Linked DNA regions of Homo sapiens: region 2 is linked to region 1. Evidence: fine-mapped expression QTL. A gene starts in region 1. The other region holds a variant in brackets. All regions are shown on one strand. Distances are from middle to middle. Region 1 holds the start of IRS2 (insulin receptor substrate 2). Region 2 overlaps COL4A1 (collagen type IV alpha 1 chain).

What was found. PIP is the estimated chance that this variant, and not a neighbour inherited with it, causes the effect.
Region 2: its variant is the best candidate, but not a certain one, in a credible set for the expression of IRS2 in whole blood (INTERVAL, PIP 0.58).

Annotation. Positions count from the first base shown.
Region 1 is chr13:109,784,145-109,789,511 of GRCh38, forward strand. IRS2 (insulin receptor substrate 2) reads right to left here and starts at 2,439. Exons shown (of 2, transcript NM_003749.3): 1 at 1-2,439. The coding sequence starts at 1,909. LOC124903211 (WAS/WASL-interacting protein family member 1-like) reads left to right here and starts at 2,940. Exons shown (of 2, transcript XM_047430835.1): 1 at 2,940-3,301; 2 at 3,456-5,367. The coding sequence starts at 2,949. The coding sequence ends at 3,693. RefSeq lists an enhancer at 946-1,575 and silencers at 2,417-2,646, 2,667-2,836.
Region 2 is chr13:110,160,156-110,165,522 of GRCh38, forward strand. COL4A1 (collagen type IV alpha 1 chain) reads right to left here. Exons shown (of 52, transcript NM_001845.6): 46 at 4,707-4,835; 47 at 3,308-3,406; 48 at 2,075-2,287; 49 at 1,037-1,214. Among named protein-coding and RNA genes, the nearest start is that of LINC03082, 34 kb to the left of the region's middle. The variant A/G (reference allele first, on the strand shown) is at 2,421.

The DNA of each region.
Region 1 (5,367 bases):
TCTCGATGTCTCCGTAGTCCTCTGGGTAGGGGTGGTAGGCCACCTTGGGAGAGGACGCGGGGCAGGACGGGCAGAGGCGGCCCGCGCTGCCCGAGAAGGTGGCCCGCATCAGGGTGTATTCATCCAGCGAGGCAGAGGAGGGCTGGGGCACCGGCCGCTGCCGGGCTGGCGTGGTCAGGGAGTAGGTCCTCTTGCGCAGCCCTCGGTCCAGGTCCTGGGCCGCGTCCCCCGAGACCCGGCGGTAGGAGCGGCCACAGTGGCTCAGGGGCCTGTCCATGGTCATGTACCCGTAGAACTCACCGCCGCCGCCGCCGTCTCGGGCCGGGGGCGTCTCCGCGATGGACTCGGGCGTGTTGCTTCGGTGGCTGCAGAAGGCGCGCAGGTCGCCTGGGCTGGAGCCGTACTCGTCCAGGGACATGAAGCCGGGGTCGCTGGGGGAGCCCGAGGCGGAGGCGCTGCCGCTGGAGGGCCGCTGGCCGGGGCCGTGGTGCAGCGGATGCGGCAGAGGCGGGTGCGGGCCGGGCGGCGGCGGGTAGGAGCCCGAGCCGTGGCCGCTGCTGGACGACAGGGAGCCGGGGCTGGTGGCGGCGGGCGGCGAGTGCGCCACGGGCATGGACATGGAGCGGCTGTGTTGCAGCGCGCCCCCTGCCGGCAGCAGCGCCACCTTGCTCCCGCGGCCGCCGCAGCCGCCGCTCAGGGTGTGCGAGCGGCTCAGGGGCGCGCGCACCGGCCCGGGGCTCAGGGGGCTCCCAGCCACCGACACCGGCCTGGCGCCCGCGGCCGCCGCTCCCGCCGCCGCGCCGCCGTCGCCCTCGCTGGCGGTGCGCACCCGGCACGAGCTGCACTTGGCCGCCGGCGGGGTGGCGGCCAGGCTGTCGGTGCGCGAGCGGCGCACCAGGCCCGTCTGGCTGGGGGGCAGGTTGACCAGGTGGTGGTGGCGGCGCGCGCCGGGGACGCTGATGGGGTGCGTGGCCGACGACCCCGACGATTGGCTCTTACTGCGCGGCCGGAACTCGAAGAGCTCCTTGAGCGCCTTCATGGCCTCCAGGATGGTCTCGTGGATGTTCTGCGCCACCACCGAGTCGTCCGCCTGCATCCACAGCTCGCCGGGGCCTGTGACGGCCGAGCGGCCCACCTCGATGAAGAAGAAGCTGTCCGAGTGGCCGCAGCGGCGGATGTTCATGAGCTGCAGCGTCACCGACGGCTGCTCGCAGTTGAGCTTCACGAAGCCGATGGTGCGCGCAGACAGGCACAGACGGTACACCCCCGTCAGGTTCTTGCTCTGGCCCAGACCCTTGGGCTTCAGGTTCACCTGCCACACCTCACGGTAGGCGGCCGTGGCGGGAGCCACCAGCCCGTAGCTGTCCTCGGCCCCGGCGGCGCCGGCAGAGCCGCCCAGGGCGCCGGGCAGGGAGGCGCTGCAGGACGCGGCGGGCGCGGCGGCGGGGGGCGCGTCTCCGGCGGCCGCGCGGCCCTCGCTGACCAGGTCGGTGAGCGCGCGGTACCAGCCCTCCTGCTCCTGCTCGTTCTCGGCGGCCACGGCGAAGTACTCGTCCTTGGTGTAGAGGGCGATCAGGTACTTGTGCTTGGCGTCGGCGCGCTTGTTGATGTTCAGGCAGCAGTCGAGAGCGATCACCCGTTTCGGCGCGCCTGCCTTGCTCCGCCACTTTTTCTCGCTCTCGTAGTACTCGAGCCGCGGCGGTTGCGGCGCCGACCCCCCGCCCGCCGTCGCCTCGTCGCCGCCCGCGCCGGGTCCGCGCAGCACGAAGAAGCGCTTGTGGCCATGCTTCTGCTTGCGCAGGTAGCCGCACTTGCGCACGCTGTGGTTGTTGTTGTTGTTGTTGTTGTTGAGGTTGGGGCCGTCTCCGCTCGCCGGCCCGGGCGGCCCGTGCCGCGGCGGGCTCGCCATCGCGGGCGCTTCAGGCCGCGCGGCCCGGGCCCGGCGCCCAGGGGTTGGGGCGAGGGGCGGAGGGGGCGCGGGCGGGGGCGGCTCCCTCCCACCCTTGCGCCCGGCCGCCCGCCCGATCACGCGTCCCTCGGGCCCAGGCGGTGGGGAAGGTCCGGGGAGGCCCGCGGGGGCCAGCACCGCTCGGCGGCGCCGCGCCCTCCGCGCTCTGGGGCTCCTGAGGATGCCCGGCGCGGGCGGTGGCCGCCCCCCTCCCCGGCTGCCTGCGGCCGCTGCCTCCTCGGGCTCTCGGGCGGCGCCGGGGGACGCGCTCGCTGGGCCGGGAGTCGGGGTCCCCGAGCCGCGGGGCCGAGCCTAAGGCGCGCGCGGCCGCACCGGGGCTGCTGCCGCCGCGTCGCGCTCCGGGAAGCCGGGGTGCGCCCGGGCGCTCGGGGTCCGCGCCGCCGCCGGGGCTGCTGCTGCTGCTGGTGTTGCTGCTGCTGCTGCCAACGGCGACCCGGGCTCGTCGCGGTCCCCGCCGCACAGTGAGTAACACATCGCGCACCGAGTGACTGAACTAAGAAGAGCAAAACAACATGTGACTCGGCGTTACGCAGGCACACACAGCGCGGCCGCCCCGCCCCGCTGCCTCGCATTGGCGCCGCGCCCCCCGACGGACGGCGCGCTCGGCCAATCGGCGCGGCGCTCGCGGGGGCGGGCCGCGCGCCCCCGCCCCGCCCCCCTTTCTCCCCGGGCCGCGTTTCCCGCCGTCCCCTCCCCCTCCCGCGAAGGCCCCGGCCCGGCCGGGCGGGGTGGGGCGGCCCCGGCCTCATTAATCAGCGGCTTGTTGTGGATGCCGGCGGAGGAGATGCCACCCAGGGCGGGAAAAGGGGCGCGGAAGAGGGGCGGGGCGGGCCACGGCGCGCAGGGCCCTTCCCTCCCGCCTCGGACTCAATTAATTGGGCTTGAGCTTCCGCCGGGGAGGGGGCGCCGGGCGGGGCCGCGGCTGGGCGGGGCGGGGGATCGGGATCGGCGGCGGGGGCTGCGGCCTTGCAGTGGAAGCATGGGCGGCGAGCCGGGCCGTGCTCTCGGGGCGCGGGGTCCCCATTTTGGGCGAGGGCGGCCGCTCCCGCGCTCGGGGTGGGCGCGCCCCATCCCCGTCCCCCGTTTCCCGTCCCCGTCTCCCGGCCGCATCTCCGTCCCCCCGCAGCCGCGAAACGCGGGGAGGTTCCAGGGCCCGCGGCCGCGGGTTCGCGAGCACCGCGCTCCAGATCGAGAGCGGCGCGCGCCCTTCCGTGGAGGACAGAGGGGCGCGGAGGGGGCGCCTGTGTCCCACCCGCTCGCGGGCGCTTTACGGGGCGTCCTCTGCGCCATTCACTTGTCAGCTTGTCGGGAAGTTGAAATCGCGTTTGGGAGGTAATAGGAGAAAGAGATCGGGGACGGCAGGCGGAGAAAGTGCGGTTTCCATAGCGCCGGGGAGAGGGCGGACCCGCGAGCCAGCGGTCCCTGAGCCGGGAGACCGCGCGGGCGTCTCTCCAGCCCCCGCAGGAGCGCCGCCTTCCTTCCGCAGGGGCGTCCTCTCCCCCCACCGCTGCAGGAGCACCCCCTTCCTTCCTCGGAAGCGTCCTCTCACCACACCGCTTCAAGAGCCCCCCCTTCCTTCCACAGGGGCGTCCTTTCCCCCTCCGAGGCAGGAGCGCCCCTTTTCCCCCCACAGGAGCGCCCTCCCCACCCCAGGAGCGCCCTGCGCCCAGCAGACGGGCAGGTGGGCGGGCGTCCACTACCTGTGTGCGCGGTGCGGGCGGTGACTGCCAAGTTGGAGATGCCCTTGGAGAACTGCTTCGAATTCATGTATCTACTGGGCTTTTGTGACTTTCAAAGCCTATAGCAAATAAGCACCCCTGCAATTACGTCTCCTCAATGACCAAGTCAGGGTGAGGTGAGGGCTTCCTGAGTTCAGATCCCAGCAAGCTCCCGATCCTGCGCAACGAAGAAAACTCAACAAAACAGGCTTTGGCTGTTTATTTTATTTTTTTTTTAATTGTGCCTTCATGAAATAATTTACAGCAATAATTTATCTTATAATATTGGTTATTGTTTTTAAGTCCCGGATGTTTACTTTTGGATGTCCTCTATAATTCATAGAAGTATCTTAAAAGTAATAAAATCTTAATCTAAGAGAAAATAAGTGTAATTTTTGAAAGAGTGATATATATTTTAATATGTTTTTGTAACATGTGACTTGAAGATTGTGTTGGCTAATTTTATGTGCCAAGAGAGCCCTGACTAGTACAAAGATTATAGCGTTTTTATTTTTAGCATGTATACAGTTAGGATTATTGATCAGTAGCCTGAATTTGGGAAGAATAATCATTGTGGCAAATATCACCCAGTGTGCCTCAAAAAGGTGTGTTTAAAGTTGATCTTCCATTTTTAAATCATACCTTAAAAAAAAATACCTCAAGAAATGCCATTTTAAGTCTGTGCACCTATGTGTGCATGTGTGCGTGTTTGTTTATATAATAGATTGTGTGATTGTGTGTGTATAGGTATGTGTGTATGATTGTGTGTGTTGGGGGCGCCACCTTTATGAACATTATGCTTCGGCGTTCTTTTTAGATCTTGTTACCTTTTCTTACGTTCACAAATGTTGCCTAGCAATATGTCTAGTCAGGAAAGATGAAGGGATTCTTATCTTGGTGCTTGAAGAAAATGTGGTGTAGTTTTATTGGCTTTGTGATCACTTACATCCCACTTTTATGAGGATGTAAATGGGCCACCTCTATGTTCCTGTATGTTGCCAGCCATCAGTAGACAATGCTAAAGGAACCACCACTTTTAAACATCATGTGATGGTTTCTTCTGAGAAAGTATATTTTGCAATCTTTTTCTTTTTCATGTTGACTTTTATTATGCAGTTGCATTTTCATATCCGTATTGAACATTTACTTGCTGTGCCTGTCACACGCTAGCAGGTGTCATCTTTTCCTGTTTGCTTGTTTCTTGGGGCCATCCTAGTGTTAAAGGCCAGTGTTTTTAAGGTGTCAGCAGCTCTGGATTGGCAGTTAGCACTTTCCCCATGTACTGCCTCAGTTACCAGACTGGGGACAAAAGAGAGAAGGTTAAAGAATTATCACCTATGTCCGTGGTATTCTGTCATAGAGAGTATAAATTTCCTACAGCAAACTGGAAATTAATTGCAATTCTGCAGTTAGAACCTCCAAATACAAATGTGGATGATACAATTTCAATTCTCATTGAGAGTCAGCCCATGAAACAAACCAACAGTAAGAAACTCTGTAATTAGAAGTATCCCAGTCCTCTTCCTCAACCGAGGAACTTGTTTTCTTTCCCCCTTTCTATTGCCAGATAAGCTATTTATTTATTTAAAGCTTGTTCTACACCTTGTGATTTTCCAACTGTTCTTCCATACTTTTTCAACAAAAGTCAGCTAATAACATCTGCCAACATGCTCTGCACGC
Region 2 (5,367 bases), 380 kb after region 1:
TAGGGGGCCGGGCGCGGTGGCTCACGCCTGTAATCCCAGCACTTTGGGAGGCCGAGGCGGGTGGATCATGAGGTCAGGAGATCGAGACCATCCTGGCTAACAAGGTGAAACCCCGTCTCTACTAAAAATACAAAAAATTAGCCGGGCGCGGTGGCGGGCGCCTGTAGTCCCAGCTACTCGGGAGGCTGAGGCAGGAGAATGGCGTGAACCCCGGGAAGCGGAGCTTGCAGTGAGCCGAGATTGCGCCACTGCAGTCCGCAGTCCGGCCTGGGTGACAGAGCGAGACTCCGTCTCAAAAAAAAAAAAAAAAATTCATAGGGGCAGGGATGATTCAGAAAACAATGTCTTAAAAGGCTCCTTGGGGAAGCTGTTACTTTTTAAAAAGAAAGATTGAGCAACACTGTTCCAACGCTTGCTGAAGAATCGAGTGGCATCACCTTGCTCACAGGAGGAAAGGCAACCACCACAGTGAGTCAGGCAAAATATAAATTATCTCTGCAAGCCTGGCATTATCTCACCATGGTTTTGCACCACAATTTTAAAAGAGAATAGCTGACTCTTTTTTCTTTTTGAGACAGGTTCTCACTCTGTTGCTCAGGCAGGAGTGCAGTGGTGTGGTCTCAGTTCACTACAGCCTCAACATCCCAGGCTTAAGTGATCCTCCCACCTCAGCCTCCCTCGTAGCTGGGACCACAGGCTCACACCACCACGCCCAGCTAACTTTTGTATTTTTTGTGGAGATGAAGTCTCGTCATCTTGCCCAGGCTGGTCTTGAACTCCTGAGCTCAAGCAACCCTCTCGCCTCGGCTTCCCAAAGTGTTGGGATTACGGGCATGAGCCACTGTGCCCAGCCAACTGACTTTTATGTCAAATAATTTTTATGGTAGATTTCCATTACAAAACTCGAATATCACAAATAATAAGCTAAATGGCAATGGATTCAACGTTTTGGAGAAAAATAGAAAACATATGCTTGTCCAGACTAGAGACTTTTCCTCTTCAATTTTGCATTTGTTCCTACAGATGCTCGACTCACCTACTAATAAATGGTCTTATGTTTTCCCCCGTGATGGGTGCCATTGACATGGGCATGGGCTCAGGGGTGGACAGCCAGTACGAGTAGTCATTTCGTGATGCAAAGTTGCACACGTTGTTAATATTGCAGAACAGGAAGGGCATTGTGCTGAACTTGCGCAGGCAGCTGCCGGCCGTGCCTAGACAAGGAAGAAGACAATGTGAGATGTTTCCTTTATAATTCACAATCTATCTCTATGTAAAGTGGATTTCAGCTGGACAACAAGCAAAAACATATAATCAACATAATCACTGAAATGGAAATGTATAAAGGATTATGTAGGACATTTTTGATGAAAGGAAACAAAACCAGTTTACCAGCACAAAGAAACCTTTTCCTAAAGCTGAATTCTAGAAGGAACTTAACACATGGTTCGTTATACGATGGATAGTAACAAATTGGGCAATGTCTTTCACAACAGTTTTGCAGAAAATGCAGATGCTCTTTCTATAGCAGCTTGCTGATTCTAACCCTGATAAAAGTTAAAGGCAGAGAAAATTAAAACACAGTTTGGTGGAGGATATCTGGGTCAGATTAAGATAATGAGGACAGATATGTAGCTTTCTGCTGATCTAAACTAGAGGAGCAGAGCTCAGCAGCTGTAGAGAATTTCAGACAGGATAACATGGACCTTTTTTTTTACAAAGAGCAATGGTTAAGCCGCATCAATGCAAATTGTTAAGTGCACTCCAGGAATCTTGATCCTACTTGATAATTTGAAGATGAGATCTAAAGTTTTATTAATTTAAAGATTTTCGAAGATTCAGTCTCCACATTTCTTGGCTTGCCATTAGTAATACAGCAGCTGTTGAACCGATTATTTGTAATCAATGGAGGGAAATGGGGCCGGGCTGCTTTTTCACTGGCTACCGCCCTCATGGCGCAGTGTTTCACTCGCTACTGCCCTCACTGCAGCAGCAGAGGCGAGTCCAGCACTGCACACCGAAGGCACTCAACACACCTACACTGAATGAATGCATGGATCTGCAGGCTTCTTACCCAAGTCCTGGCCATGGGCCCGTTCATTGCCTTGCACGTAGAGCAAAGAGTACCCGTGGTAAAGAATTTTGGTCCCAGAAGGACACTGTGGGTCATCTATTGTTTGACTATGCCTGGTCACAAGGAAGCCGTGATCAACAGATGGGGTGCCTGGGGGCCCCATGGATCCTGGCAACCCATCGGGGCCTGGTGGACCTGGAAATCCTCTTGGACCTGGAAGATAGGAGACAAATTAGTTTCCCTAATTACAAACACGCTCCCCTAAAGGCTTTCAAAATCATTTTCTCCAAAGAGTTTTTAATATTTTATATTTCCACAAAGTATCCTACCTATTCATGTTACCAAA[A/G]AAGTCTAAAAAGAATGCATGGCTAACTAAATACAGCAGCCTACCTCCTTCATGGTGTCTTAACTTTTTCTTTTTACCTGCCACCTCAAGATATTTTTATAAGCACAGTTCTCGGTGCAGAGCAGATGCTTGAACAATTTAGTTCAATGAATATATGACACATATGAAAATGGATATATGAATAAATGAAAATAAATGAATGACGTGACTCTGTGCATGTCATTCACACGGAATCGTGGGGCTCCTGTTGGGGAGGACTATCATAGAATTATTAAACAACCTCATCTTAAGGTGTTTCTTCCTCCATAGCAGCCCAAAGCCTGCGTATGGAAATGGAGCAGTAAGGGACCTCGCAGGCAAGGCCTGCTTCTGTCCCCTCTCTAACTGTGCCACGTGCCAAACTGTGCCCAGGTCTGCTGGGCTGAGCTCTTTGTTCAATTAGTCAGTGGCCTCAGCCTTTTGCATCATAGCCTTCACCGGACACTCGAGTGTGCCTTCTCCTAAGGAAGCAGATCAAGTTCATCCCATGCCTTTGGGCCAATGCTGGCATTATTTTCATTTCTACTTCCCTTGTCCTTTGCTGAAATAGAATTTTCACAGCTGCAGCTCACATCCCACTTAGGAAACCACATGGGCCACCACTATTGGCTGCCTTTCAACAACATCTGGGAAACGTACACTTTGATCAATATCTGTCTCTACACAGAAAAAAGAACACTTCTTCAGCTCTTCTATTTGATTCTATTTCTTCTAAGAAACAGACTTCTTCGGAAATCTGTCAAGTGATATATCCAACTTCATTCTGCTGTTTCCCCATGCCTGGTTCTGCTCCTTCTATCCCAAAGATCCTGGTCAAGGGTAATTACGTTGGAAGTTTCGCAACCTACCAGTAGGCCCGGCAGGTCCCATCTCTCCTTTCTGGCCAGGGGCACCGTCAAACCCAGGAATACCTGGAGGTCCAGGTATACCCACCAATCCTGTAACACCTGAGGCAGAGGAAAAATAATTTATGATCCTGTATGGCAGTAAGCTGTATCTCTTTCTTCCCTTCTTAAATGTCCTTTTCAGTGTTCAAGGAGCCAAGCATAAAGTCTCACTGCAGATGAGAACGTTTTCTCGGACAGCCAGGAGTTGCTTCCCACAAAGTCGAGTACAGACTTTGCAGAAGCAGCTGGATATTCATAAGGGGGTGTGTGTTTGGGCACCTCGTTCTGAGTTCTCCCTGGTTTCTTGCTGTTTGGCAGATTGGTTTGGAAAAGGCAGGTGATGTGGAGGGAATGAGAGACTGGATAACTTTCCCTCTCAGCCATATACTGGGGTCTCAATTTTTAGGCAACAGATATACCAACATGGATAGTTTTTTTGTTTTCATGTACATAGCTTGTTCTTCTTCTTTCTTTCTCTCTCTCTTTTTTTTTTTTTTTTTTTTTTGAGACAGGGTCTCGCTCTGTCACCCAGGCTGGAGTGCAGTGGTGTGACCACCGCTCACTGCAGCCTCGACCTCCCGGGCTCAAGCGATTCTCCTACCTCAGCCTCTCGAGTAGCTGGGACTACAGGTATGCACTACCACACCTGGCTAATTTTATCATTATTATTTTGTAGAGACAGACTCTCCCTATGTTGCCCAGGCTGGTCTTGAACTCCTGGGCTCAAGTGATCCTCCCACCTCAGCCTCCCAAAAAGCCGGCATTACATAGGTGTGACCCAGTGAGCCTGGCTAGCTTATTCTTAAGTATCATTAAATTTTCTTTGATGCTTTCAACTTTAAAATGTTTTCATTCTCCTTTACTTCCCACCCACTCCTTATCAGTAGCTCTTCAAATAGGAGATGTTTCACTCAAATAAGCAGAAGACTATGTTAGGGTTTCAGGAAATAACAGAGAATTGTACAGACAGTGCCAATCAGGCAGCGCTCCTGGGGGCATGGATGGAGAGCACCGATTTTTACCATTCCAGATTGCTACATGCCACCCCCATCTGGAGCGGGAGGCAGGAGGGGGAAAGGTAATGATCTGGTTCTTTGAGCCCATGTTTTTCTAACTGAACACAGATGTGTTGTTATGTGTTCCTCTAGCTTTTCCTGGGTTTTCTTCTGGATTTTTTTTAGGTCCCTTTAAAAATGTCATAGGTTTTGATATGCATTGAAGGGAGGTAAGAAACTCATATTCATATGTGTGTGTATAATCATTACCCAGAAACTTATTTTAGATACATGGGTGAGGAGGAACTCTGACCACTGCCCCTCTGGGCTCCCCATACCGCCCTGCACAGGCCAAGCCTTCTCACCTTGCTGGCCTTTCGGGCCTGGCAGTCCCTGAAGCCCTTTCAGCCCTGGGGGGCCCTCAGGACCAGGGAGCCCGGGCTCCCCTTTGATGATGTCGTAAGGACCTGGGGGGCCAGGAGGACCCGGGAGACCTGTGGGAATAGGGAAGGCATTGATCAATTTCACTGTCCACATACTGGGGCGGAAACAACTTTAGAAGGAGAATCCCGGGTGAAGCTATCCAAATGGAACGTACTTCTCAAAGGTAAAGTCATTATCAAAACCCAGGTAATCAGATCTTCACAAAACATGTCCAATCTGCACATCTTTATTATTTAACCTGAAATCCTGAACTCTCGGGCAAAGGCATTGGGGCATCAGCGTAACTTCCCACTGCATTCTGGGCTCTGGGACCCCTGACAACTGCCCTGCAGCCTCATGCCAGCCCTCCCAGCAGGGAGAGAAGCTTGTTCTTCCCAAGCAGCCCCCGCTTCTGACGTGGAGAGTGCCACTCTGCGATTAGGACATTTTTCCCACACTCATCTGAAACCTGCCTTACTGTATAGTATCACACTGGTCCTGATCTTTGAGTGACGAATGAACTTAATCCTTCTTCTGCATGGCAAGTCTTGGCATGTGGTAAGAACCACACAAAGTGCGAGTTCCCCTCAGCCTCCCCGTTTT